Linked DNA regions of Homo sapiens. The protein of the gene in region 1 interacts with the protein of each later gene in a biochemical or structural test. Each region holds a gene or a part of one and is shown in the gene's direction. Other genes may lie near its edges.

The links.
Region 2: the proteins of FMR1 (region 1) and NUFIP2 form a complex in vitro, tested with the Homo sapiens proteins (2 studies listed by BioGRID and IntAct, with this or other methods).
Region 3: the proteins of FMR1 (region 1) and ASCC3 form a complex in vitro, tested with the Homo sapiens proteins (one study listed by BioGRID).
Region 4: the proteins of FMR1 (region 1) and RANBP9 form a complex in vitro, tested with the Homo sapiens proteins (one study listed by BioGRID).
Region 5: the proteins of FMR1 (region 1) and CYFIP1 form a complex in vitro, tested with the Homo sapiens proteins (one study listed by BioGRID and IntAct).

Annotation. Positions count from the first base shown.
Region 1 is NC_000023.11:147,939,402-147,942,921, forward strand, and holds part of FMR1 (fragile X messenger ribonucleoprotein 1), read left to right. Parts: intron 1-1,174; coding exon 1,175-1,261; intron 1,262-3,520.
Region 2 is NC_000017.11:29,284,140-29,287,659, reverse strand, and holds part of NUFIP2 (FMR1-interacting protein NUFIP2), read left to right. Parts: coding exon 1-1,668; intron 1,669-3,520. UniProt on the Homo sapiens protein: Binds RNA.
Region 3 is NC_000006.12:100,511,005-100,514,342, reverse strand, and holds part of ASCC3 (activating signal cointegrator 1 complex subunit 3), read left to right. Parts: intron 1-1,424; coding exon 1,425-1,634; intron 1,635-3,338. UniProt on the Homo sapiens protein: ATPase involved both in DNA repair and rescue of stalled ribosomes. 3'-5' DNA helicase involved in repair of alkylated DNA: promotes DNA unwinding to generate single-stranded substrate needed for ALKBH3, enabling ALKBH3 to process alkylated N3-methylcytosine (3mC) within double-stranded regions.
Region 4 is NC_000006.12:13,701,828-13,705,347, reverse strand, and holds part of RANBP9 (ran-binding protein 9), read left to right. Parts: intron 1-3,520. UniProt on the Homo sapiens protein: May act as scaffolding protein, and as adapter protein to couple membrane receptors to intracellular signaling pathways. Acts as a mediator of cell spreading and actin cytoskeleton rearrangement.
Region 5 is NC_000015.10:22,970,359-22,973,878, reverse strand, and holds part of CYFIP1 (cytoplasmic FMR1-interacting protein 1), read left to right. Parts: intron 1-3,520. UniProt on the Homo sapiens protein: Component of the CYFIP1-EIF4E-FMR1 complex which binds to the mRNA cap and mediates translational repression. In the CYFIP1-EIF4E-FMR1 complex this subunit is an adapter between EIF4E and FMR1.

The DNA of each region.
Region 1 (3,520 bases):
GAGTACATTATTGAAATGTGTATGGGCTTGATAAAACTTAATGCTTGTCAATGTACCTATTTTTTTGTCTCACAGATTATTCAGTGCATTTTTATCCTGATGTTTTTGTTTGTATTTTGTGTGTACTCTATTTACTTGGTTAGCAGAAATGATTTACTTTTTACTTTTGTACCCTTGGTATTTCATTTTGATTTTTTTTTTAAGAATTTGATCGGCCAGGCGCGATGGCTCATGCCTGTAGTCCCGACACTTTGGGAGGCCAAGGCAGGCAGATCGCCTGAGCCCAGGAATTCGAGACCAGCCTGGGCAATGTGGCGAAACCCCGTCTCTACAGAAAGTACAAAAATTTAGCTGGGTATGATGGCATGCACGTGTTGTCCCAGCTATCCAGGAGGCTGAGGTGGGAGGAACACCTAGGGCCTGGGGAGGTCGAGGCTACAGCGAGCCATTATCATGCCACTGCACTCCAGCCTGGATAACAGAATAAAAAGACCCTGTCTCAAAAAAAAAAAAAAAAAAAGAGGCGGAGGCGGGCGGATCACGAGGTCAGGAGATCGAGACCATCCCAGCTAAAACAGTGAAACCCTGTCTCTACTAAAAAAACAAAACATTAGCCGGGCGTAGTGGCGGGTGCCTGTAGTCCCAGCTACTTGGGAGGCTGAGGCAGGAGAATGGCGTGAACCCGGGAGGTGGAGCTTGCAGTGAGCCGAGATCCCGCCACTGCACTCCAGCCTGGGCGACAGAGCGAGACTCCGTCTCAAAAAAAAAAAAAAAAAAACAAAAAAGAAAAAAAAAAAAGAAAAAATTTTGATCAGGATAAAGCCTTTCATAAATGAATTAGAGCATCTTATACTACTCATTTTGTTTATACATCTCATGGTAAAGCTTGTATAATTTTGAATTATACATTTTGTGATTTTGCTGATACTGAATACTAGTCTTTATAATAATCTGATACGTTTAAAAGGTTGCTATTGATCTATTCGTATTCACAGTAGATGTGTAAAGTAGTATATCAACTACTTTTGTTTTCATATATTGATTTATATTTACAGCAAACATTTGTATACCTGCTGTTCACCAGATCCTGTGCTAGGGAATTAGTCGTTATTTGCATTTTTCAGATTAATCTATCATTACTTTTATAGGATCATTGTTGCAATTTCTTTTTCAGGGTATGGTACCATTTGTTTTTGTGGGAACAAAGGACAGCATCGCTAATGCCACTGTTCTTTTGGATTATCACCTGAACTATTTAAAGGTGAGAACAGAAAGAACTTTAACTTCTAATCCTTTTGTACTAAAATATACAAACTTTATAGTAGATCTTTCAGCAGTTAGGACTCATTCTAGCCTGTGCAAAACACTGTATGACTTGTCAAAGGTAATAGAGAAAATACGTTGTTTGGCTTATAATTTTTTTAAAAATGGAAGTCTTTATAAATTTAAGTACCAATATACCAGTTTTCAATAAAATTTTATACTTCCCTTTATTCTTCTCTTAAACCCTTACACTCAGTTTAGGCAATCCTGTACATAGCCTGTTAATCCATTTGATCCTTTCTAGCATTTTGGTTTTTTCCAGACAAAAATCTGTGTCTATAACTCTTGCCTTTATTGTTCCTTTTATGTCATTTATCAAGGAAATCTAAGCATTTCATGAAGTTCTTTGTTTAAATGTTTACCCTATTTTTCTCTTTACTGTTATTCAAAATACAAACTATTTGTGTCTTCTCATAAATGTTCAGTTTAGTTAGTGTGATGCGGTTATGCCTCCTTAAAATTTCAAACTGGAAGATAGGAACGAGGAGGCTACAAGGTGTAGTGGAGCAAGCACTGGATGGGCAATGCAGCAATTTACTTATAAGACTTCAGCAAATGAACTAGCTGTGTGACTTTAGGCAAGTCACTTCCCTACACTAGATGCTTCTTGAAATTCCTTTTGGCCAAAATGTTCTATACTTTAATGAAATGGAAACTGATCTACTTCATTTTCATAATGTTTTATTTGTATCCATACATATCAAAATTATAATGTAGCTGGTATTAAATGTTTTTAAAAAGCATTTCAACTCTATTTATGGCATTAAGAATTTTTTTGCTGATTTCTTGAAAGAAATAAAAAGTACATGATTTCTGCTTGTGTGTAAATAAGAATGAAAGGAAGAAAAAGTGTAATACTGGGCATGCCATTCATTCTTATGGTGGCCAGTTAATTAAAAGTGGAAAGGTTTCATCCAGCAAGGTTTACATGGGTAGGATACCTCTTTGATTTTTTTTTAAGTATGTTTATGTGTAATCTCTCTGTGTGTGTGTCTCTCTCGTAATTAGCTTAAATCATCATGAAGGCCTGGAGAGTTAGGATTGCATTGTATCAAATCCCTTGTTCTTTTGACTAATGTTCTTTCTTAGATCCTTTGATTTATTCTCAAGAATATCTTCTTTGGTTATCAGCAGCTGCCCTGTTGCCATTCTTTCCATCACCAGAACTTCCCTCGTTTGGGCCTGGCATCTCTCACCAAAAGGTGACTGCTTTGCCCCAGTGGGATAACCTGGACTACTCTTCTGTTTTGCAAGATATTCCTATTCCATGAGCTATTACTATACCTTTGGAGGAAGTCACTCACTCAGCTGCAGTCTCTCCTTTGCTCAAATTCTATGTAAAACAGATTCTGGTGTAACTATGTAAATTGCTAATGATGGCAGAGCACAGATGAAACGGACCAAATCCTTACCTGACCTTTCTTTTCCAGAAGCTGCCACAACCAAGATTTTAGAAACTTAGCTTTACAGGAGCTTCTCCAATGACTGTTCATGTAGACAGTCTCTATGATAACCTCTGCTTCACTGAGACGCCTACTACTACTATAGTTATGAATCTGATTCCCCGTAGCCAGTAAATGAGATGTTTATGAGTGGATTGGAAGGACAGTGGTTAGAAATGAGGTTTCATCTGGTTTTAACAGAACCCAACATACTGGAAGTGCTTTTTGTAAGGGTCTGTCATTGGACCCCAGGTGTATATTTCTATCAACTAAATGTATACTGTTTCTCGTACTTGTTGTAGCAGAGTTGTAGTCTTTAGGAAGTTTTCAAGGCATGATGTAAGACCTAGCTGTCTGGTCAGCTATTAAATAGTTTTGTTTTCCCCTCATGAGGAATAGTCAGCATTTTCAGTTGATGAAAAAATCATTGTTCCTTAACCATAGTATATGTTCTTTTAAAACAAAAGATGGCCCAAACTCAATGCTTTGTAAATTAAGATATTAACTGGCAAATCTATTTTAATCAAGATTATTTACAATGTGTGATTTTTAAGGTTAGCTGGTTATACCTTGAATGTCATTTATCTATATTCATACATTTTAGCATGTTTTATTTAATATCCTATCATGAAGAAGTCCCCAAAATAGCATATCTGTGCCTTAGCAGTAGAATAATTGGATAATAGTGCCAAATTAGACAACTTTAAATTTTATTCAGTATAATTTTACTGCTGAGTGTTTTTGTTATATCTCTA
Region 2 (3,520 bases), on another chromosome or scaffold:
GTTCTGATGAAGCCACCAACCCTATTTCCAGGGTCCTCAATGGCAACCAGCAAGTTGTAGACACTAGCCTGAAGCAGACTGTAAAGGCCAACACCTTTGGGAAAGCAGGAATTAAAACCAAGAATTTCATTCAGAAAAACAGTATGGACAAAAAGAATGGGAAGTCTTATGAAAATAAATCTGGAGAGAATCAGTCTGTAGATAAGTCTGATACTATACCAATTCCAAATGGTGTGGTAACAAATAATTCTGGTTATATTACTAATGGTTATATGGGTAAAGGAGCAGATAATGATGGTAGTGGATCTGAGAGCGGATATACAACTCCTAAAAAAAGGAAAGCTAGGCGCAATAGTGCCAAGGGTTGTGAAAACCTTAATATAGTGCAGGACAAAATAATGCAACAAGAGACCAGTGTCCCAACCTTAAAACAGGGACTTGAAACTTTCAAGCCTGACTATAGTGAACAAAAGGGAAATCGAGTAGATGGTTCGAAGCCCATTTGGAAGTATGAAACTGGGCCTGGAGGAACAAGTCGAGGAAAACCTGCTGTGGGTGATATGCTTCGGAAAAGCTCAGATAGTAAACCTGGTGTGAGCAGCAAAAAGTTTGATGATCGGCCCAAAGGAAAGCATGCTTCAGCTGTTGCCTCCAAAGAGGACTCGTGGACCCTATTTAAACCACCCCCAGTTTTTCCAGTGGACAATAGCAGTGCTAAAATAGTTCCTAAAATAAGTTATGCAAGCAAAGTTAAGGAAAACCTCAACAAAACTATACAGAACTCTTCTGTGTCACCAACTTCATCTTCATCATCTTCATCATCTACCGGGGAAACTCAGACCCAATCATCAAGTCGCTTATCCCAGGTCCCTATGTCAGCGCTGAAATCTGTTACTTCTGCCAACTTTTCTAATGGGCCTGTTTTAGCAGGGACTGATGGAAATGTTTATCCTCCAGGGGGTCAGCCACTGCTAACTACTGCTGCTAATACTCTAACACCCATCTCTTCTGGGACAGATTCAGTTCTCCAGGACATGAGTCTAACTTCAGCAGCTGTTGAACAAATTAAGACTAGCCTTTTTATCTATCCTTCAAATATGCAAACTATGCTGTTGAGCACAGCACAAGTGGATCTGCCCTCTCAGACAGATCAGCAAAACCTGGGGGATATCTTCCAGAATCAGTGGGGTTTATCATTTATAAATGAGCCCAGTGCTGGCCCTGAGACTGTTACTGGGAAGTCATCAGAGCATAAAGTGATGGAGGTGACATTTCAAGGAGAATATCCTGCTACTTTGGTTTCACAGGGTGCTGAAATAATTCCCTCAGGAACTGAGCATCCTGTGTTTCCCAAGGCTTACGAGCTGGAGAAACGGACTAGTCCTCAAGTTCTGGGTAGCATTCTAAAATCTGGGACTACTAGTGAGAGTGGAGCCTTATCCTTGGAACCCAGTCATATAGGTGACCTGCAGAAAGCAGACACCAGTAGTCAAGGTGCTTTAGTGTTTCTCTCAAAGGACTACGAGATAGAAAGTCAAAATCCTCTGGCCTCTCCTACGAACACTTTGTTAGGCTCTGCCAAAGAACAGAGATACCAGAGAGGCCTAGAAAGGAATGATAGCTGGGGTTCTTTTGACCTGAGGGCTGCTATTGTATATCACACTAAAGGTAACTCATTTGTTTCCTATACAAAGATTTTTATTGGCCAATTTAGTATATTGTTTATATTAAGAGAATTTTAAGAGAATTAGTTGTTCATATTAAGAGTATTTTAAGAGAATGACAATGTGGATAAGCAGCTGGTGTCAAACTAATTCAGGGTCCTTGGAACTAGTATGATTAAAATTTAGAAGAAATGTTCACTTTTCCAACTTAAAAGGATTTTTAAAAATACAAACATAATTGACCTACCTGGTTCAAAGAACAGAAGTGAGGAGAACTTGCTTAAAGGTATTGATGTTATATTTTCTCTTGACTGAGTGCTTGAAAAAAAATTTTATTGAACATATGTTCTCCTTCCGTGGCTTTTTTGTCTTTGCTTTTTTGTTTTGTTTTGTGTTTTTTTTCTTTGAGATGGAGTCTCACTCTCTTGCCAGGCTGGAGTGCAGTGGCGTAATCCCGGCCCACTGCAACCTCCACCTCCCAGGTTCAAGTGATTCTCCTGCCTCAGCCTCCTGAGTAGCTGAGATTACAGGCACGCACCACCATGCCCGGCTAATTTTTGTATTTTTAGTAGAGACGGGGTTTCACCATGTTGGCCAGGATGGTCTTGACCTCTTGACCTTGTGATCCACCCACGGCCTCCCAAAGTGCTGGGATTACAGGTGTGAGCCACCACACCCATTTGCTTATTTGTTTTTGAGACAGAGTCTCACTCTCTCACCCAGGCTGGAGTGCAGTGGTGTGATCTTGGCTCACTGCAACCTCCGCCTCTTGGGTTCAGGTGATTCTCCTGCCTCAGCCTCCCGAGTAGCTGGGATTACAGCCATGCGCCACCACGCCCAGCTAATTTTTGTATTTTCAGTAGACACGGGTTTCCCCGTGTTGGCCAGGCTGATCTCAAACTTCTGACCTCGTGATCCGCCCGCCTCTGCTTCCCAAAGTGCTGTGATTACAGGTGTGAGCCACCGTGCCCAGCCTCTCCTTTGCTTTTTATATCATATGCGTCTTTAATAGTGAGCTCATTTAATAGTTCTAATTTGATTAAAATGAGTAGAAGCACTGTTTTTGAAGAGGAGACTGATAAGTCTTGGAGTAATGGATGCCAGTTTGTAACTGGAAAATAAGTTAGACAAATCACAGTGTCAAGTATGATTAGCATAGTTGAGACCAGGCTCTTGGGATTCTCCTTTTCATAGCCCTAAAGCCCAAGTTTAAAGGGAACCAGGTATCTTTCAAGTTTCACGCTAATAACTTTCTTTTCTTTTTTTTCTTTTTTTTTTTTTTTTTTTTTGAGATGGAGTCTTACTCTTGTCACCCAGGCTGGAGTGCAGTGGCGCAATCTTGACTCACTGCAACCTCCGCCTCCCGGGTTCAAGTGATTCTCCTGCCTCAGCCTCCCACGTAGCTGGGATTACAGGTGCCCACCACCACGCCTGGCTAATTTTTATATTTTTAGTAGAGATGAGGTTTCACCGTGTTGGCCAGGCTGGTCTCAAACTCCTGACCTCAGGTGATCCACCCACCTGGGTCTCCCAAAGTGCTGGGATTACAGGTGTGAGCCACCGTGCCAGGCCTCATGTTAATCACTTTCTTAGAATGTGGTTTGTTTGTGTCTTAAAGAAAAATTCGCTGTATGGCATAACTGTAATCTAAATCCTTAGAGCAAATAATGAGGTTTAACGATGATGTTTATATCCTTTTGCTTTTGAGAACAGTGGGTTTCAGTCTTCCCATCTTTCCTACCTCTTCCTCCTTTCTCTAACAGAAATGTATGCTCCATGCATGCATGTACACACTTAATACATAGTGCACATTCCCATTTTAACAGTGGCTCATTTAGGCAGTGACTTACAATTGC
Region 3 (3,338 bases), on another chromosome or scaffold:
CTTAACCCCTTTTCCAGACTGGCCAGTCCTAGAAGAACATCTAGTGGTACAGCTTCTATACTTAGTGACTATGGGTTCTAGCAGGGGATAGACCATCCTTTGTACAGGTTGTACAGATTGAAGTACCATCTGTGGCTTGACTACTTCAAAATCCAGTTCAAGACATGATTTCAGATTGATAAGACAAGTTATAGGATTGGAGTTGAATTGAAAATTTGCATTGAATTTACATTTTTTTTAATTCCTAAGGGGTAGTTTGGTTCATCAGGACTACTTCATTTCAATTAGGTATACTCAGCAGCACTAAGCAAAATCAAAGCCTATAAGGAAATCTATAGTATATATTAAAGGAATAAAAGAAAAACCAAAATTAAAGTACCATGTACTTTTAAAAACTAACTGAGAAGGTAACAACTGATTAAAAAAAAAAAAGCCAATGTATTGAGAAGTTTTCTTGACTGATGGTGATATTGCCATATAAGTGTATATGTTAGAAAAAGATGACCTCAAGTTTTTTGTTACATCTTTTCTGTAGACCTAGGTATTCTCATTCATTCATTCATTATTGTTGAGCACTTGCTATTTGAATACTGATTTTTTACAAATGTCTTTCCACTTCAAGAGCAAGTATAAAGTTAGGTAAAATATCTTTTAATGTGTCATTTTAATTGGTATTCTCAGTATGATGATGCCAAAAATTCATATTTGTTTCTAGAAGGAACCCTAGACTTATAGAATTCCTTATGATATAAAATATAAAGAATTTTTTTCTGAATAAATAGGGCAAATTTGAAATATGGGCCAAAAAATGTACAATAAGTGGTCAGTGGAGGATTCTAACATCAATAATTGAATTACAAAAATATTTTCACATTGCCCTTTTATCCCCAAGTAATGCTCTCCTTCTTAGAAGCCATGTGAATGTCTGAATAGATGCTTCTCTAAAACAAACCAGTTCGATAACAGACATTTTTTAACTTGTTTTATTTTAATATAGTCAACAGCTGCTCAGTATCAGGAAGGATTTACAATAAAGGAATCACAAGTTTAAATAATGATAAGCCCTCTTTTAGTTATTTTTACAAAGACATTAAAAAGACTAAAAGCACAATATTCTTACACATACATGCATATAGACACAAATACAAGAAAAATTGGGGAAATCTGAACAAAATCACTGGATTATGTTAATGTCAATATCCTAGTAGTAATAAGTACCGTAGTTTTGAAAAATGCTACCTTTGGAGGAAACTGGGTAAATGGTCCACAGAATGTCTCTGTATTATTTCCTGCAACTGCATTGGATCTAGAATTAATCTCAACATTAAAAGGTTAATTTTCGTCTAAAAGCACACTATTTCTTAATTGATCATTGCATTTCACATAAACTCCTCCTTTATTGTTTCTTTTCTCTTTTTATTTAGGCATGGAATTTCTTATCTCACTTGCCAGTGATAAATGTTGGCATAAGTGTTAAAGGCTCGTGGGATGACTTAGTTGAAGGACATAATGAACTCTCTGTCTCAACTCTGACTGCAGACAAACGAGATGACAACAAATGGATCAAATTGCATGCTGACCAAGAGTATGTGCTTCAAGTGAGCTTGCAGAGAGTCCACTTTGGGTTCCACAAGGTATAGTGTTTGGTTTCCATTCTCAAATATTTCACACCAAATACCAGCATGCACCACCACACATATCTGTTATGTGACTAATGTGCCCGTGTCATTCATGAATCCTGCTTTCTCAACTGGTCTTAAGCAGCGAGAGTTAGTCTTTTGAAATTCGTGAGTTCTCCTCATGTGTCATTTTTCAGCCCCAGAAAATCTACCTTACATAAGAATATATTGCCTAGAGTACTATTCTCAAAGTATGGTATACAGACTCTGGCCAGCAGAATTTCCTGGAGTGCCTTTTAAAGTGCAGATTCCTTGGCCCCACTCCAGACTGGCTGAATCAGAACCTCAAGGAGGCGGGAATCTCAAAATCTATACCTTCACTCAGTGCCCCACATGATTTTTAAGGGCCTTAAAGCTTGAGCAGTACTGGCCTAGAGGCACTTTGGTATACAGGAACCACATTGGGCTAGATGTAGATGAGACTGAAGCTTTACCACTTAGCTCTATGAATTTGAATAAGACATTAAGCTTTTCTGAGCCTCAGTTGCCACATTTGCCTGCGTCCTTCATTATAATGCATAGGAGAGCTTTGTCAATGTTCATACAGGCAAAAATGTACAGTATTTTTATTTTAGATTACTATGCTCTTTTCTGTTGCCTCTGATTATCTGGTCCTCTAAGAATATTAGTACACAGCAGGTGGGCAGATTGGTTTTTAGTGCCATAATAATTAAAATAAGAAAGAATTAGTCTTCTTTTTGGTCCAGTGGATTCAGGGCTTTCCCATATCTAGAATAAGCCCTCAGGGGTGAAGCTGTAGTTCATAAGTATTGTCCCTTCTGTTCTCACACACAAAATGATCAGTAACTTTCTATTCTTAAGATGTTCTTTCAGTATTGTACCTTCAAGTCTCACCTCATTTGATTTCTAATTCTAAAAAAGTCTGTCAGTGTAAGTATTAACTGATTGGCCTCTGGCATTTCAGAGGCTTTAGTATGAGCTTTTTTTTTTGATACGAAGTCTCACTGTGTCGCCCAGACTTGGCTCACTGCAACCTCCACCTCCTGGGTTCAAGCATTTCTCCTGCTTCAGCCTCCCAAATAGCTGGGTTTTACAGGCATGTGCCACTACACTCAACTAATTTTTTGTATTTTTAGTAGAGATAGGGTTTCACCATGTTGACCAGCTCATCTTGAACTCCTGACCTCAAATGATCCACCTGCCTCTGCCTCCCAAAGTTCTGGGATTACCAGCATGAGCCACCACACCTGACCTTAATATGAGGTTTCATTTGTTTGTTTGTTTGAGATGGAATTTCACTTATGTTATCCAGGCTGGAGTACAAGGGTGCAACATCAGCTCCCTGCAACCTCCGCCTCCCGGGTTTAAGCAATTCTCCTTCCTCAGCATCCCGAGTAACTGGGATTACAGGTGCCTGCCACCATACCCAGCTAATTTTTTGTATTATGTTGGCCAGGCTGGTCTCAAACTCCTGACCTCAGGTGATCCACCTGCCTTGGCCTCCCAAAGTGTTGGGATTACAGGCGTGACCCACTGCACCTGGCAATATGAGCATTTTTTAGATGACTTAATGTATTCCAACTTATAAAAAAAAGTAATAATTACAAACTAATAATAGTAATAATAAAAATAGCAACAATCATAAAGATAAAATCATGGGGGAAAACTATGATTTTTTTACCTTAATATTCTACTTAA
Region 4 (3,520 bases), on another chromosome or scaffold:
ACTGCAACCTCCATCTCCTGGATTCAAGTGACTTTCCAGCCTCAGCCTCCCAAGTAGCCGGGATTACAAGCGCCTGCCACCACGCCTGGCTAATTTTTGTATATTTAGTAGCGATGGGGTTTTGCCATGTTGGCCAGGCTGGTCTGGAACTCCTGACCTCAAGTGATCCGCCTGCCTTGGCTTCTCAAAGTGCTGGGATTATAGGCGTGAACCACTGCACCCAGCCTAATGATATATATTCTGCTAGACTAGACAATTTATATGTGTTTTTCACTGTTCATTTCTTCATTTATTTAATGAGCTTTTAGTGAATGTTTACTTTGTGCTAGGTTCTGGACACTCAGAGGTGGAGAAGATACTGTCATTGAATTCAGAGAGCTCAGAGGACATAAAATAGAGTAGTAAGGGAAATATTATAGAGAGTACTGTGGAAAATAGGAGGAGCGTATAACCCAGGCTGACATTGGAAAGAATGAAGGAAGTGTAGGTATCAGGGATAGCTTCTTGGAGGAGTCGAGGCTAGTGGTCAGTCTTAAAAGATGAGTAGGATATAGGAGAAAGGGAGGGGCTAGGTGTTGCAAATGAAGGAAAAGCAAAAACATAGAGAATTACTTTATGTGTCTGGTTTTACAAGCAATTTTGGGTTGGCATTTAGAGTATGTGACAAGGAGCATCTGGGAAAAGATCAATTAGGAGGCTTTTTTTTTTTTCTCTTTTGAGGCAGGGTCTGACTCCATTGTCCAGGCTAGAATGCAGTGGTGCGATCTAGGCTCACTGCAACCTCTGCCTCCTGGGCTCAAGTGATCCTCCCACCTCAGCATCCTGAATAGCTGCAACTACAGGCACGTGCCACCATTCCCAGCTAATTTTTTGTATTTTTTTGTAGAGAAGGGGGTTTTGCCATGTTGCCCAGGCTGGTCTCGAATTCCTGAGCTCAAGCCATCTGCCTGCCTTAGCCTCCCAAAGTGCTAGGATTACAGGCAGGAGCCACTGTACCTGGCCCAGTTAGGAGCCCTATGGAATATTTTGTTGAGTTTAGATCTTATTCTGTAGGAGATGGAGAATCATCAAAGGATTTTAAATGGGAAGTGACTGGCTCATATCTTCATTTTTGTCAGATTACGCAGCTGATTGGAAGATAGATTCAAGAGGTTACAAGAGTGGGAATAGTAAATTCATTTAGAAGACTATTGCAGTAGACCATGTTAGAATTGACCTCAGCTGGGTCAGTGGTAAGGCCAGAGAAAGGCAGATATATTTGTGAGATATTTAAAAGTAATACTGAGAGGATATGAGGAATGATAGTGAGAGAAATCAAAGAAAATGTTTGGGTTTCCAACTCTGTTAGGATGATGTTTGGGTCTTTAGCTGTTAGGCTCTTGCAGTGAACCATGAATAAAATAATGATTGTGAAGGAGACTGTATTACAGTATAGTTGGAGATAAGTAAAAATGGGAATCTCAGCCCTGTGATCTGACTTCATGGAAACCAGAAGAAGCCAAAGAAACAAGCCTTACAGAAAGAACAGGAACAGGTCTTTTGGAGTTAAGGGGACTCTAACTGGTCTTAATAGTCATGACTTAATTCTATTCTATTAAAATGACTCAGCTCCAATCACTAGTTTCTGGTTGTTTTATTTCTTTTTCCCTACTGACTGGCTTATCCTTTCCTTCCTATGTCAAATTCCTGAGAGACTTAACAGATTGGCCTGGCTAATTGCTATGATTCTTAGTTGGGCAGAGCTTTTCAATACAGACTATGTTGTGAATTGGTGGCCTTCAAGTCAGGTGCTAACCTGTGTTGAATCAGCTGTAGGAATGGTGGTAATTATAAAATACAAAATACCCTGCTGGTACAAGGATAGTCTGGGTCTCACTTCTTTCGGTAGGGGCAATGTGTGAGGCAGTTTCTCCTAGGAAGGGTTGGCAGTTAACCATAATTGATCTGAAGCTTGGGAGAGAGGTCTAGGTCGTGACTGATTTAGGAGTCACTTGTAGGTGGTAGTTGAAACTCAGAGTATTTGAAAGAGAGAGGGAGAATAGAGTGAGAAAAAGCAGTGGGCCAAAGATGGGGACCCTGAAGAACACCAACATTGAAAGACTAGAGGGAGCACAAAAGAAATGGTAGGTCCCCAGACATCAAGGAGATTGGTGTCACAGAAGCTGAGCACGGGAGGGTGCAGTGGCTCACACCTGTAATCCCAAAACTTGGGGAAGTCGAGGTGGGAGGACTGCTTGAACCCAGGAAGTTGAGGCTGTAGCCAGCGGTGATCATGCCACTGCATTTTAGCCTGGGCAACAGAATGAGACACTGTCTCAAACAGCCTCCCCACCTTCCCTAGAAATGAGGAAGTGATATTTAGTGTCTGTTGCAACAGATAGGTTTAGTAGGATAGGCACAGATAGTTTTCCACTACGTTTGGAAATTAGATCATTGTGACTTTAGGGAGAGCAGTTTGAATTGAGTGATGGGGCAAAAACCAGATTTCAGTGGGTTGAAAGAGTAAATGAAAGGACCAAGTAGAGAGGATAGTGAATAGAGATTATCCTTGAGAAATATAGATGAAGGAAGAGATGAGGCATTTCCTAGAGGAGGATGGAGGTTAAGGTAGGATTTTTTTTTTCTTCTAATTTTTAACGGCTGATAGTGGAGTTACGTTTTACCTGGTGTTTAGCTTCTAATGTCAGCATAGAAGATGAAAATCCTACATAACCAAAATTATCCTTAAAAATTCCTTTGGAAAGTATTGTGTTAGAGACCACTGTGTCATTTCTTAGTCAATCTTGTTTTAATTTGGTTGTATAGGTAAAACTGAAGCGACATAAATTAAATGAAAATACTATATTATATTAGTCCAAGGTATGGTGTTCCAGGAAATGTATACAAAATTTAACATTTTAACAAATAAAATTGATTAGCCTACCTGGTTATTATTACTATTTTTTCTTGAACAGAGTCTCGCTTTGTCAGGCCGGATCCCAGGTTTAAGCAATTCTCCTCCCTCAGCCTCCCGAATAGCTGAGATTACACACACCCGCCACCATGCCTGGCTAAGTTTTATGTTTTTAGTAGAGATGGGATTTCACCATGTTGGCCAGGCTGGTCTCGAACTCCTGACCTCAAGTGATCCACCCACCTTGGCCTCCCAAAGTGCTGGGATTACAGGCATGAGCCACTGCGCCCAGCCTTGTTATTACTTTTAAGGTAAAAAATTATATACCACCAACTCTGGTACATTACTGACAATGATTTATATGTAGCACGGAGGCATAGAATTTGTGAAAAGTGTACATTTTGGGGACATTGTCCCTTTACAGATTGAGGGGAAGGAGAGATTAGAGAGGAAGATAATGAAATACAAGCTTGAGAGGCTGACAGAGAGGCTTCTAGAGAGGAAACTGGTTCCAGAGTCCAGAATGGTTGGTCTTGGAGAGGAGAGTACAGACTGTTCTTTGATAATAGTGGAAGAGGTGAAGACTGCCGTGGACATAGATCACTTTGTAATAAAAGAGTGGAGAGT
Region 5 (3,520 bases), on another chromosome or scaffold:
TATCCATTCAGATCTTTTACAATTGAGTTGTTTGAATTCTTTGTATATTTTCATTATTAATCCCTTATTAGTTATATGGTTTGCAGATATTTTCCTGCATTCTGTAGATTGTCACTTTGTTGATTGATTCCTTTGCTGTGCAGAACATTTTTAGTTTGATGTAATCCCATTTGTCTATTTTTTCTTTTGTGGCCTTTGCTTTTGAGGCTTTATTTCCTCAAAATAAGCCAGGCACAGAAAGACAAGTACTGCACGATCTCACTCACATGTGGAATCTGAAAACGCTGATGCCACAGAAGAACAGAGCAGAATGGTGGTTACCAGAGGCTGGGGTGGCTGGCGGAAGGGGAGAGAGGAAGATGTTGGTCAAAGGATACACATTTACAGTTAGATACAAGGGGGAAAGTCCAGAATAGGCAAATATACAGAGACAGAGAGTAGACAGGTGATTGCCTGGGGCCAGAAAGCAGGGGAGAGAGGATCAGTGAAGAACGGGTAGAAAAAGTGAGAATAACTGCTAATGGTTAGGGAGTTTCTTCTCCCTTTTTTTTTTTTTTTTTTTTTTTTGACAAGGTCTCGTTCTGTCACCCAGGCTGGAATGCAGTGGGGCAATCATGGCTTACTGCAGCCTTGCCCTTTTGGGCTTAAGCAATTCTCCCACCTCAGCCTCTCCAGTACCTGGCACTACAGGTGTGCACCATCATGCCTGGCTAAATTTTGGTTGGTTGTTGTTTTGTTTTTTTGAGACGGAGTCTCACTCTGTCGCCCAGGTTGGAGAGCAGTGGCGCGATCTTGGCTCACTGCAACCTCTGTCTCCCAGGTTCAAACGATTCTCCTGTCTCAGCCTCCTGAGTAGCTGGGATTACAGGTGTGCACCACCATGCCCGGCTAATTTTTGTATTTTTAGTGGAGGCAGGGTTTCACCATGTTGGCCAGGCTAGTCTCAAACTCCTTACCTCAAGTGATCCTCCTGCCTCAGCCTCCCAAAGTGTTGGGATTACAGGTGTGAGCCACCGCCTAATTTTTGTGTTTTTTTGTAGAAATAAGGTTTCACCATGTTGCTCAGACTGGTCTCAAACTCCTGAGCTCAGGTGATCCCCCTGCCTGGGCTTCGCAGGGATTATAGGCTAAGCCACCGCACCTGGCCACATTTAAGTCTTTAATTCATTTCGGGTTGATTTTTGTCTATGTTGAGAAGCCAAGGTCTGATATTATTTTTCTGTATGTGTGTATCTAGTTTTCTCAACACCGTTTATTGAAGAACCTATCCTTTTCTCATTGTGTGTTCTTGGCACCTTTGTTAAAAATCAGTTGGCTGCAAATGCATGCATTTATTTCCAGGCTCTATTCTGTTCCATTGGTTTATGTGTCTGTGTTTATGACAATAGTGTGCTGTTTGGGTTACTATATCTCTGTAGTTTTTTTTGTTTTGTTTTGTTTTTGAGACGGAGTCTCACTCTGTCACCCAGGCTGGAGTGCAATGGCGCAATCTTGGATCACTGCAACCTCCGCCTCCCGGGTTCAAGCGATTCTCCTGCCTCAGCCTCCTGAGTAGCTGGGGATTACAGGCGTGCGCCACCACACCCAGCTAATTTTTTTGTTTTTAGCAGAGACGGTGTTTCACCATGTTGGCCAGGCTGGTCTCGAACTCCTGCCCTCAGGTGATCCGCCCACCTCAGCCTCCCAAAGTGCTGGGATTACAGGCGGGAGCCACCATGCCCAGCCTCTGTAGTATATTCTGAAGTCAGGTAGTGTGATGCCTCCAGCCTTGTTCTTTTGCTCAGGATAGCTTTTGCTATTCCAAGTCTTTTGTGGTTCCACACAAATTTTAGGATTTCTTTTTCTATTTGCATGAAGAATATGGTAGGTATTTTGATAGAGACTGCATTGAATCTGTAGATTGCATTGAATCTGTAGATTGCTTTGAATCTGTAGATTGCATTGAACCTGTAGATTGCATTGAATTTGTAGATTGCTTTGGGTACTATCTATTGTTTATTTATTTTTTGAGATGAGTTACCTAGGCTGTTACCCAGGCTGGAGTTCAGTGGTGCAGTCATGGCTCACTGCAGCTTTGATATCCTGGGCTCAAGCGATCCTCCCACTTCAGCCTCCTGAGTGTCTGGGACTACAGGTGTGAGCCACCACGTGCAGCTACTTTTTATTTTATTTCTTTTCTTTTTCTTTTTTCTTTTTTTTTTTGAGACAGAGTTTTGGTCTTGTTGCTCAGGCTAGAGTGCAATGGCGCAATCTTGGCTCACCGCAACCTCTGCCTCCCGTGTTCAAGCAGTTCTCCTGCCTCAGCCTCAAGCTACTCAAGCTGGGATTACAGGCGCCCACTACCACGCCTGGCTAATTTTGTATTTTTAGCAGAGATAGGGTTTCTGCATGGTGGTCAGGCTGGTCTGGAACTCCTGACCTCAAGCGATCTGCCTGCCTTGGCCTCCCAAAGTGCTGGGATTACAGGCATGAGCCATCACGCCCAGCCTTATTTTATTTTTTAGTAGAGACAAGGTCTAGCTGTGTTGCCCAGGCTAGTCTTGAACTCTTGAGCTCAAGTGATCCTCCCACCTCATCCTCACAAAGTGTTGGGATTACAGATGTGAGCAACAGCACCTGGTCTATTAATTCTGTTGTTGCCAGTGTTTTTGGTGTCATATCCAAGAAATCATTGCCAAATCTGATGTCATGAAGCATTTCTCCTGTTTTCTTCTAAGAGTTTTATAGTTTTAGATCCGATGTTTAGGCGTTGATCTGTTTTGAATTAACTTTTCTTTTTTGTGTGTGTGTTTGGTTTTTTTTCGAGACAGATCCTTGCTCTGTCGCCCAGGCTGGAGTGCGGTGGCGCAATCTCGGCTCACTGCAAGCTCCGCCTCCCGGGTTCAAGCGATTCTCCTGCCTCAGCCTCTCTAGGAGCTGGGATTACAGGCCCCCGCCACCACACCCAGCTAATTTTTTGTATTTTTAGTAGAGACGGGATTTCACCGTGTTAGCCAGGATGGTCTCGATCTCTTGACCTTGTGATCTGCCCGACTCGGCCTCCCAAAGTGCTGGGATTACAGGAGTGAGCCACCACGCCAGGCCAAATTAACTTTTCTGTATATTATATAAGGTAATGGTCCAACATAATTCATGTATGTGTGGATATTCAGTTTTCCTAACACAATTTGTTGAAAAGACTATTCTTTTTCCATTGAATGATCTTGACATCATTGTTGAAAATTGTTTGGCCACATATGTGAAGGTTTATGTCTGGGTTCTTTGTTCTGTTTAATTGGCCAGTATGCCTTTCTTTATGCCAGTGCCACACTGTTTCAATTACTGTAGCTTTATGGTAAGTTTTGAAATAAAAAGGAGTGAAGTCTCCAACTTTGTTCATCTTTTTCAAGATTGCTTTGGCTATTCTGGGTCCTTGGAGATTCCTATGAATTTTAAAATGGGTTATTTTTGCAAAAACAAAGTGCTGTTGGAATTTTCAAAGGGATTGCATTGAGTCTTTAGAAGGCTTTGGATTGTATTG